2 separate regions of the Homo sapiens genome follow, and region 2 is linked to region 1. The links come from fine-mapping of genetic effects on gene expression. A gene starts in region 1. The other region holds a variant in brackets. All regions are shown on one strand. Distances are between the middles of the regions. Region 1 holds the start of ATRN (attractin). Region 2 overlaps ATRN (attractin).

Region 1 (5,373 bases):
TCAAATGGAAAATGCCCTGGCCTCACCTTCAAGGCCATTTGTATTCTGGCTCCAATCTAAAAGCCTATAATGTCATGAAAATAGGCGTGAACTACGCCATTTCACAGCTCTTGGGCTAAAGGTCAAAATTCTCAATCCAACCCACAGATCTCCACTTGGCCTGGCTTCCCGCCTTTCTCTCCAGTCTTGCCAAGCTCCCCTTTGCTCTCTCTGCTCCTGCCACCTGGCCTTCCATCCGCTTCAACCCCAAGCCTCTGTACCTGCTGGCCCCTCAGCACCCCACCCCTCACGCAGGTAGTACCATCTCACCCCTCAGACTTCACATCGCTTCCTCAGTGACTTACCTTACCCCTAGACTAAGTCAAGTCCTCTGTTTGTCTCCTGCTCTTTACCTCCACAGCCTTAAACAAAATTACAATAAAATTTTTGTTGGATTTTTTTACTCCCAAGCTGAAATGTGAGCTCCGTAAGAGCAGGACTGTGCCTGTCTTGTATACCACTGTATCTCACAACCTAAAACATAGGAGCCCTCAACAAATACATGTAGGTTAATGGAATTCATAAATCAGAACACCCTAAGTTACAAAAGCAGCTTCACTGCATCAGTGGTCCTGAAGTAACTTGGTTTCTCCATCCATAAAACTAAAGAGCTCATCTGCTCAACGTTCTCTGAGTTCCTCAGAAGACCTAATATTACCTAAGTCTACAATTTTGCTATTCCAAACTCCTCTCTCACAACTCTCTTCCACATAGGCAGCAGCAAAACTTTACTTTCCAGCCTCCACAACTTTGTTTGCACCCTTCTTTCCATCTGTAATTTTTTTCCAGCTCCACATTTCCAAATCCTACTTAACCTTACATGCTCAAATCCAATGTTACCGCCTCCTCAAAGTCCTCCTTGCATCCCTCCAGCTAGCCACAACCTCTCCATCCCTGAATTCCCACAAGTTCCCTGTTGCCTCATTCAGGTCTCAGATCAAATGTCATTTCAAATGAGAACCCTCTCCAAGAGTCACCACCGGTTATAATTCTCTATCAGACCACGCTGTTTTTATTTTCTTGATAGCATTTACCATTACCTGAAATTACCATGTTTATTTCTCTCATTTATTTACTTGTTAAGTGCCTGTTGCTCCCACTAGAATGTTAAGGTCAATGAGAGCAGAGGCCCTGTCTGTCTTGTTCACATTTCCCCACTCCCCCACATCAGACATGTGTTCAGTAAGCTAAATACCTGTCAAAGGCGTGAATGACTCTGTAACCCTTATGACTAGGGTTATGTGCGCACATTATCTTTCTCTTGCTATATTCCAAACTCCCTGTGGACAAGGCCAAAGTCTGGCTAATCTGTCTGTATTATCTGGAAAATCATTGCACAACTGAAGCAAATAACGATAACTGCTAATTAATTTATTGATTTCTCCAAGAGGAACTGCCCCAAACTAAGCCAATTCAGAACTTCATATTGTCCAGAAACCAAGGCAAATAGGAATCTCCTTCCATTCCCTCTTCACCACAGACCCTATTCCAATTTGCCACCTCCAGGGAGCTTTTGCCAAAAGGCTAGTTTCCTCACTTTCCTTTAGAAGGACCACTGGTCCTTCTATCCCTAATATCTTACAATGCTACCCTTTCCCTTTTATCTCCAGCCAACAAAGCATTTCCAGGGCCCTGTTTCTTCAGAGCACCCCACATCTCCAGTGCATCGGGGAACTCATCGGGTCCTAGGGCACATGTGGATGTTAAAAGGAAGTGTTCAAGCAAACCTGGCTCGACCACCTTTCCTTGGATACCTCGTTTAGCTGAAACACGCCGAGTTTTAGAGCGATCGGCTTTGATGCTCTTTGGGTCCCTCAGCATTCTTCCCATCTAACTAACCTAAGCACCCAAATACCGTCGGGGTGCCCCCACCCTTGCCCCACACCTTTTCACCTTCCAACAGAGAAAGACCCCAGGCCAGAGACGATGATCTCCCCGGAAGCAAATGGCCCTCAAACCCCATAGGGCGGCCCTACCCTCTCCACTTTCTGTCCAGCATCTCCCTCTGACCTGGAGCCGTCTCGAACGCCCCTCAGCCCCAGCCTCTGGTTGGACCCGACCCTCCGACACCACCCGCCACTCACCTGAAGCGGCCCCCGCAGTGCTGGCATTGCTCGCCCACCCAGCCGGCGGGGCAGACGCACTGGCCGGTGCCAGGGTTGCAGCGACCGCCGTTGACACAGGGCCGGTCACATTCCTTGGCCTCGGCTGCGGCTGAGCCCGACACCGCCGCCGCCGCCGCCGCGGCCTCGGCCTCACAGGGCAGCAGCAGCAGCAGCAGCGGCGGCGAGAGCAACAACAGCAGCAGCAGCAGCCGTGGCCGCAGCGGTGGAGACAGCAGCCGCGGGAGGCGCAGCCCGGCCCCCAGCCCCGGCCTCCCAGCCCTGGTCACGTCCCAGTCCCAGTGCGGCCCGCCGCTCCTGCCCGCGAGCGCTGCCGTCGCCGCCGTCCTCCTCCTCAGCCTTGCCTCAGTTGCCGCCGCTGCAGCCACCATCTTCCCGGGGCTGAGACGGCGCCCCGCGAACACATACACACACACCGCACGGCCGGCTCCGCTTCGCCTGGCCGTGCGGGGCGGGGCTGTGCGGACGGTGGCTCGTGCGGTCCAAAGGGGCCACAGCGGGGCGGTGGGCGGGGCCGGCGCGCGCGTGCGCGAGTACGTGGGTGCGTGCGTGCGGGGGCGCAGACAGTGGTCTCCGGCGTCCGCGGCGCCGGAGGCGATCTTCTGACGTGGACCGTAGAACGAGCTGAAACCCGGCTGCGCTGTCCCGGCCGGCGAAAGCTCTAGTTTTCCCCCTTCGCCTTTCGTCCCCGGCGGCGGGGTTGCAGCCCCACTGGATGCCTAGGAGCCGACTGCGTTGAGTGTTGCCCTCCTAGAGACCCGGCACTCTGCCCTAACTCCAGCTGCCGGACGGAAAGGGTACAGGAGGCTGCATCGCAGCGAGGTGCTGGGTGCGGTACTGTAGAAGCCAGGCTTCATTCGAGCCTCTGTAACACAAGAGTCAAGAAAGAACACATGTAGAACCTGGCATAGGCCGGGCGCGGAGGCTTACGCCTGTAATCCCAGCACTTTGGGAAACTGAGGCAGGCGGATCACTTGATCTCTGGGATCCGAGACCAGCCTGGCCAACAGGGTGAGACACTGTCTCTACTAAAAATACAAAAATTAGCCGAGCATGGTGGTGCGCGCCTGTATCCCCAGCTACTCCAGAGGCTGAGGCAGGAGGATCGCTTGAGTCTGGAGAGGTCAAGGCTGCAGTGAGCCGCAGTCGCAGCACTGCACTCCAGCCTGGGCAACACAAGACCCTGTGTCAAAAAATGAAGAACCTGGCATGTAGGCTGTGCTCAGTAAATGCCTAATAAACTGAATGAAGACACACAGCCAGGCCTCTTGATAACAGATGGACTGTAGCTGACCAGACCCCCTACCTTTAATTCTGTAAAAGTTTGGAGTTACCTTGCTCCCCACAATTTGCCCTCCAACCATCTTCTCTGAAGAGTGGGCAATATAGAATTAGGAAATGGCGCTCACACAGACCTGCCCCTTCTTGTCTGGTAGTTGTTACTCTGGTGTCCCTCAATGAGACATGTCTTCCATCAATGTAGCCTTTTATGGTCCTTGACCCTGGAATCTGGGCTGGGTCATGATTGAGACCATGAGAAACCATGACTCAATTTCACCAATAGAAGAAGTTGGTAGGAGTAGCAATGTCTTGTTTCTAGCTCTGAGCTTAAAAAAGACCTGGCAGCCTTGGCCGGGCACGGTGGCTCACGTCTGTAATCCCAGCACCTTGGGAGGCCGAGGCGGGCAGATCACGAGGTCAGAAGTTCGAGACCACCCTGATCGACGTGGTGAAACCCTGTCTCTACAAAAAATACAAAAATTAGCCGGGCGTGGTGGCACACACCTGTAATCCCAGCTACTCAGGAGAGTCGCTTGAATCCAGGAGGCAGAGGTTGCAGAGAGTCGTGATCGCGCCACTGCACTCCAGCCTGGGGGACAGAGCGAGACTCTGTCTCAAAAAAAAAAAAAGACCTGGCAGCCTTGATTTTGAGCTGTTGGTGGTCATGAGCTGCACCCCGTTAGCCACCTTGCTGGAGAGAAACCATGTGCAGAGACCACTTGGACTTGGAGAGGGAGAGCTGGGCCGCTCAGCTGGTGGAGCCATCCTAGCTAAGGGATCAGTCATTGAGTGAAGAAGCTATCTGGGTTGGGTTATTCCAACCGTCTGGGCTGTTCCATGTTACCTACAACAGTAACAGGTCTTTCCTAACTGTGACTTATCCAAAATCCTAAGAAATAACTCATTTATCATTTAACCCTTAAGTGATGAATTATTTATAATTTTTCATAAATTATGATTTATGTTATTTTAAGCCTCTAAGTTTTAGAGAGGTTTGTTACTCAGTAATAGATAAGCAGAACATTGTCCGACATAATGCTTGTGCTATGAGGAATATTCCTATGGCACCTACCTCAGAATCTGGGCACCTTACAGTCCCTGGGAAACAAAGAAAAACCCTCATAGACCTGTGGAGCCTCTCAGCTTTACCTCAGAGTATGGAATTTTAAGGTTCTAAGATGGATTTCCACACTCATACCCAGGTCCCACTCTCATACTCAGGTCCTGACTGTCCTCACTGCATCTTCTTCAAGCCTGGTGAAGCTGAATTGCACAAAAGCCTTACCCCCAGCTCTACATCCACACATACTCCCCATTCCTACAGGAAAACTATTGTTCGGCCTAGGCCCTAGCACTGACATTCTGGTTTGCAGGTTATGTTTTTGCCATGTAGGATTTTGAAATTGAAGACATGGCCCTACCCTCTGGCAGGACCCCATCAGATGGGGAGGCTGGCATAGGCCATGCCCTAGCTGTAGGAGACATTGCTCCCCCTAATCTTCCAGGCCAGAAGTGAACCAGCCCTTTCCTTCCCTTCCCTCCCCACAGCAAGACTGAACCCACACTGTGAAGTTTCACATGATTTTACCAACATTCAGGGATAACAGAAAAGGTGTGCATCTGAAGAACAGCAATCCCTAGACTAGATATTGCTACTCTGAAGCCTTAGAATCTTGCTGCAGCAAACATTCTTTCTTACTTCCTTAATCTACTCTCTTCTCTGGTTCTTTTTCCTTAGCTTTCAAACATGCTCAAATTATTTTGTCCTTAAAAAACAAACACGCTGGGTGCAGTGGCTCATGCCTGTAATCCCAGTGCTTTGGGAGGCCAAGGTGGGAGGATCACCTGAGGCCAGGAGTTTGAGACCAGCCTGGACAACATAGTGAGACCTTGTCTCTACAAAAAATTTTTTAAAAAATTAGTCAGATGT
Region 2 (5,373 bases), 140 kb before region 1:
TTACTTTTCAGTTCTTCTGGCAGTTGCCTTTTTATCATTAATGTTTTTATTGTTATTTCCTGATCTATCCATTTTAGGCATCACTTTAACCAACCTCTTACTGAAACAGAAGGTGATTTTGGTCATCAGCCCCGCCCCTCCCTCCAGTATATATCACTGCTCTTAGTGCCTCTGTTAGTTCCTGTGCCATTATCCTGAGGGTGACAGTGATGGAAAGATGCCACCACAGATAGGAAGTGGACATGACTCTCTGGGATATGGGGAGACGATGTGCCTGTTACCCACACACAGCTACAAGATCAGAAGACAATGCAGCCATAGCCCACTGAAGGGCGGCTTCCCAGGCCCCACAGGGAGGAGCCCTCAGACCCTGATGCACCTGTGCGTCGGGGTGAAGGCAGGAGGCTTGCTGGGAAGCTCCGTTTTCCATTCTCACCAAGACAGGTGGGCTGGTTTGAGGGAGAGGGAGTTTTGCCCCTGACCCCTGAGTGTTCTAGAGACTGTCCACTGTTAACTGGTAAAACCCCCGTACAATGCTGTGTACTTCCTGTAAAGGCGAACAGAACTTCAGCTCCAGGGTGCACTATGCTCCAGGCCCGCCCAGCAGAGGCATGCTCCTGTAGCTGTCTGTAGGAGGCCAAATCATATACTCATACCTTTATTTCTTCTTCTACCACCTGTATTATTCTTTTCATTGTGTAATTTTTTTTCTTTTTTAGTAGGGATGGGGGTCTCACTATATTGCCCAGGCTGGTCTCGAACTCCTGGCTTCAAGTGATCCTTCCGTCTCAGGCTCTCAAAGTGCTGGGATTACAGACATGAGCTACCATGCTCAGCTTCTTTTTCATTTTGGAAAATCTTAAGCTTTTTAAAAAGTAGAAAGAGCACTATAATGAACCTCACACGCTCATCATCCTGCTTTAGTAAATTATCAGCTCAAGGCCAACCTTGTTTCATCCACACTACACTTACTTTCCCTATGATCATATTATTTTGAAGCATTCCCCAGACCCAATCATTTCCCTCTTAACTATTTCAATATTGACAGGAGCACTGAACTTTCTTCTTTGTAAAATTTGGATGTTTATGTCCTCAGCCCTCCCTTTTCTTCTATCTTCTAACTCTCTGGACAAAATTCTAACCAACAACAATCCAATCTTCTAACTCCACGCTGTGTAGACTGAGATAACAGATTCTTGGTTGCCAACCTCAGCCAGCCCATAGCACTGGTCAGCAATTGTTCTGACAATATCAGAAAAAGGTGTCGGCTCCTTTATAAAAGTTATAAAAGTTGTAAAAAAGAAAAAGTTCTGATACCTACCGTAAAGCCCTTATACTAACAACTATATACTCATCTGGCATACATTTAGGGAGTATCTCCAACTGATTAGCACATGACACTGAGGACACTGAGGGATAAAAATGCGATCCTTGCCATTAAGAAATCTTCGTATAGTGGAAACAGACACTCTGCTGTGGAGGTGCAGAGGAGGAAAGGAAGTTGCTATGGGATGTGTGTCATCAGATGGTCCCCTTCCCTGGGTTTCTACACAAGAATTCCACCTGGACTCCCTGGACTCCTGGACCTCCTAAGTCCTCCCAGGACTTAGGCCTGGCTCCTTCCAATCCACACTCCCAACTGCTGCCAGTGGGGTCTTTCTAAACACTGATCGTCGGTGACTTTTCGGCCTAAAACATCTCAACAATTCCCAGTCACATCAGGACTCAAGTTCACAGCCTGCAATCTCCAGTCTCTTCATAATGGCCCTCCCCAGCTCTCCACCTTCTTGCTCATAGCACTGTCACCAGCTCTGCTAAACTCCTGGTAGTTCCTGAAAGGGCTGGTCATTTCCTTTCCCCACCACGAACACCCCCTTCCCCCGCCCCCATGCTCCTTAGGAATCAGCTCTGGTGTGATCTCTCTTAACTTGGACTCAGGTGACACAGGGCACTCCCCTCCCCTCTCATGGCTCCCAGGAATGCATGGGCACACCTCCAACACCGAGCTTCTAACGAGGTGCCTGCTGTCCACTCACAGCTGCTGCTCTGGGCCAGAAAGTCTGCTGGCTGAATGAATTTTAAGGAAGTCTAGTGGGTTCCTGGCTCTGGAGATCACAGGAGAGAAGTCTGCTAGAGACAAAGATTTACCTGTCCAGCCAAAGGCAATGTTCCCAGATGGTGTGGATGAGATTGCCCAGGGAAAAAGAGTCCAGATGAAACCCAAGGGAACAATAGCATTAAAGAGCTGACAAGAGACAACCAAAGCGAAAGCTGAAAAGCAGGGGACTTTCGAGACAAAGGAATAACACATTTTTCTTTTTTTTTTTTTTAATTATACTTTAAGTTTTAGGGTACATGTGCACAACATGCAGGTTTGTTACATATGTATACATATGCCATGTTGGTGTGCTGCACCCATTAACTCGTCATTTAACATTAGGTATATCCCCTAATGCTATCCCTTCCCCTTCCCCCCA[C/T]CCCACAACAGGCCCTGGTGTGTGATGTTCCCCTTCCTGTGTCCATGCGTCCTCATTGTTCAGTTTGCACCTATGAATGAGAACAAGCGGTGTTCAGTTTTTTGTCCTTGCGATAGTTTGCTGAGAATGATGGGGGCAACATGGTAAAACCCTGTCTCTACTAAAATACAAAAAATTAGCTGGGCGTGGTGAAGTGTTCCTGTAGTCCCAGCTACTCGCAAGGCTGAGGCACGAGAATCACTTGAACCCAGGAGGCAGATGTTGCAGCGAGCCAAGATTGCACCACTGTACTCCAGCCTGGGCGACAGAGTGAGACTCTGTCTCCAAAAAAAAAAAAAAAGAAAAAAGAAAAAAGAAAAGAATTAAACTGTACTTAAAAGCATGTGTCTTTCTTTGTTTCAAACTATATTTAAGGTTCTTGTACAGCCTTGTGGGTTTCATCATAAAGAAAAATTTTTTTTTTTTTTGGAGACAGGAGTCTTGCTCTGTCGCTCAGGCTGCAGTACAGTGGTGCAATCTTGGCTCGCTGCAACATCTGCCTCCTGGGTTCAAGTGATTCTTGTGCCTCAGCCTTGCAAGTAGCTGGGACTACAGGAACACTTCACCACGCCCAGCTAATTTTTTGTACTTTAGTAGAGACAGGGTTTTACTATGTTGCCCAGCCTGGTCTCAAACTCCTGAGCTAAAGCGATCTGCCCGCCTCGGCCTCCCTAAGTGCTAGAATTACAGCACAACCATATAATTCTTAAAACTCTTAAGATACAGACAATTAACACCAGGAGGTACGGATATGCACTGTTATTATACAATAAATATAAACATTAAAAGTATATCTGACACTATTCATAATAGCCAAAGAGTGAAAACCACCCAAGCATCCATCGATAGAAAAATGGATAAACAAAACGTGGTATATACATATAAGGAAGATTATTCAGCTATGACAAGGAATAAGTACTGAAACATACTAAACACGGGTGAACCTTGAAAACAGTATGCTAAGTGAGAGCATATCATGTGACTCAATTTATATAAAATGTCCAGAATAGGCAAATCCACAGAGACAGGAAATACAGACTGGGGGTTGCCGGAAGAGGGGGGAATGAGGACTGACTGCTAGGGGCTTCTTCTGGAAGTGGTGAAAATATTCTAAAATTGGCTGTAGTGACGGGTGGCTGCACGCTTCTGTGAATACACTGAAAACCACTGAATTGTGTACTTTAAATGAGCGAACTGTATGGTATGTAAATGATGTCTCAATAAAGCTGTTATAAGAAAAAAAGCACATCCAAGTGAACAAAAGTTTCACACATCCCTTGCTCAGTATAGCGATCCTGTTAGCACCCATAAACAGAACTCTAAAATCTAAATGAATGCCCAGTTCTCAATACCAATTCTGTGTTGCCTTTACTTGTGAACACTGGCCTCTTACATAAAACAGTAGATGAAACACCCAGCACGCAGACTTCTATATTAGCTCCACATTACAGTAACAACCTCTGTTGCAGAGTCGGGAACGAGCCAGAGCCTCACCACTCCACCTTCCCACCTCACACACTTTCTGTCCAACCATCTTCTATCTTGAATACCTACCGCCCACGCCCCCAAACTATGGACATAGCTGAAGCCGGCTGAGCCCCGGCTTACTGGGGAGAACAACTAGGATAGCTTTCAGAAAGCAGGGGCAGAGGGAAGGGTGCTCACCCACAGGAACAACCAATCAAAAAACAGGCACAACCGGCCCCAACACACCCGCCACCCTCCCAGAAACAGGACTTTTCAGTCTGTGGGTTTTGTTTGTTTTTTAGCTGCATCTACAAAGATTTTTATAGTCAGTTTCAAATTCCCTCAGCAGTTATAGGTTTTGATCTGTTCCTAATTATGGAAAAGAATCCTGGGATTGGTTCAGAGTGAAGGAACTTGAGTTTAGTATTACCATTTTTAAAGCCCCAATGCTTACACAAATTTCCAACTAGAGAATTAGATTTCCTCAGTTACTTTGCTTTAAAAAAATGAGAATCTCAATTTTTAAAATCTCATTTAAAAAATGAGAATCTCAATTTTTAAAATCTCATTTAAAAAAGGAGAATCTCAATTTTTAAAATCTCATTTAAAAAAGGAGAATCTCAATTTTTAAAATCTCATTTAAAAAAGGAGAATCTCAATTTTTAAAATCTCATTTAAAAAAGGAGAATCTCAATTTTTAAAATCTAATTTAAAAAATGAGAATCAAAGGCAAAACGGCTTTGCCTGCATCGAAAGCCATACTGAAATTTAACTGAATGGCCTACACTGCACTATTTAGACATTTCCCTACTGTCTTCCTTAAATAAGTCTCTCCATTTTTACTGAATTTGCACAGTTGCTAAATGTGTGTATTTAAGAGCCATGCTACACACCTAGAAAAGCTAAGTCTCTGGGGAAAAAACAGCAATAAAGAAACATGCAGCCCTTGTTGAGAACATGATGTATTTACCCAGGAAGACACGAGCTCAGCCCTCCACATAGCGCACAGCCAGATACGGTCCCCAAAGCAGAGAGAACCAGTGTCAACCAGGCTCTCATGCGAGGACTGAGAACACACGGTGACACGGGCCTAGTCACAGTGAATAGTGCAGTCATTTGTACCAAACAGCAAAAAGACACGTTTGCAATAGAACTTACCTGCGTTTTCAAGGAAAGCTTGGCAAACTAAATGGTGGGCATGCCATCGTTTATTTTCACAAGTGCTCCTGAATGCAGCATTCATAAGTGGATCTTAATTTAAGTTAGTGATCCAGAAAAGATAAGGAGCACCAGAAAACCAGGAAGAAAATCAACATCTCCTTGATTATGAAACTTAAAATTATTACTTCTTAGAAGTAAGTGTGGGGAAGAGCTCCCTCTAGAATGAAAG

What was found. PIP is the estimated chance that this variant, and not a neighbour inherited with it, causes the effect.
Region 2: its variant is fine-mapped to the expression of ATRN in whole blood (TOPMed, PIP 0.93).

What each region holds. Positions count from the first base shown.
Region 1 is chr20:3,468,268-3,473,640 of GRCh38, reverse strand. ATRN (attractin) reads right to left here and starts at 2,623. Exons shown (of 29, transcript NM_139321.3): 1 at 2,124-2,623. The coding sequence starts at 2,533. RefSeq lists a silencer at 2,237-2,796 and an enhancer at 2,897-3,036.
Region 2 is chr20:3,613,002-3,618,374 of GRCh38, reverse strand. The region is part of intron 24 of ATRN (attractin); the gene reads right to left. Among named protein-coding and RNA genes, the nearest start is that of GFRA4, 48 kb to the left of the region's middle. The variant C/T (reference allele first, on the strand shown) is at 2,478.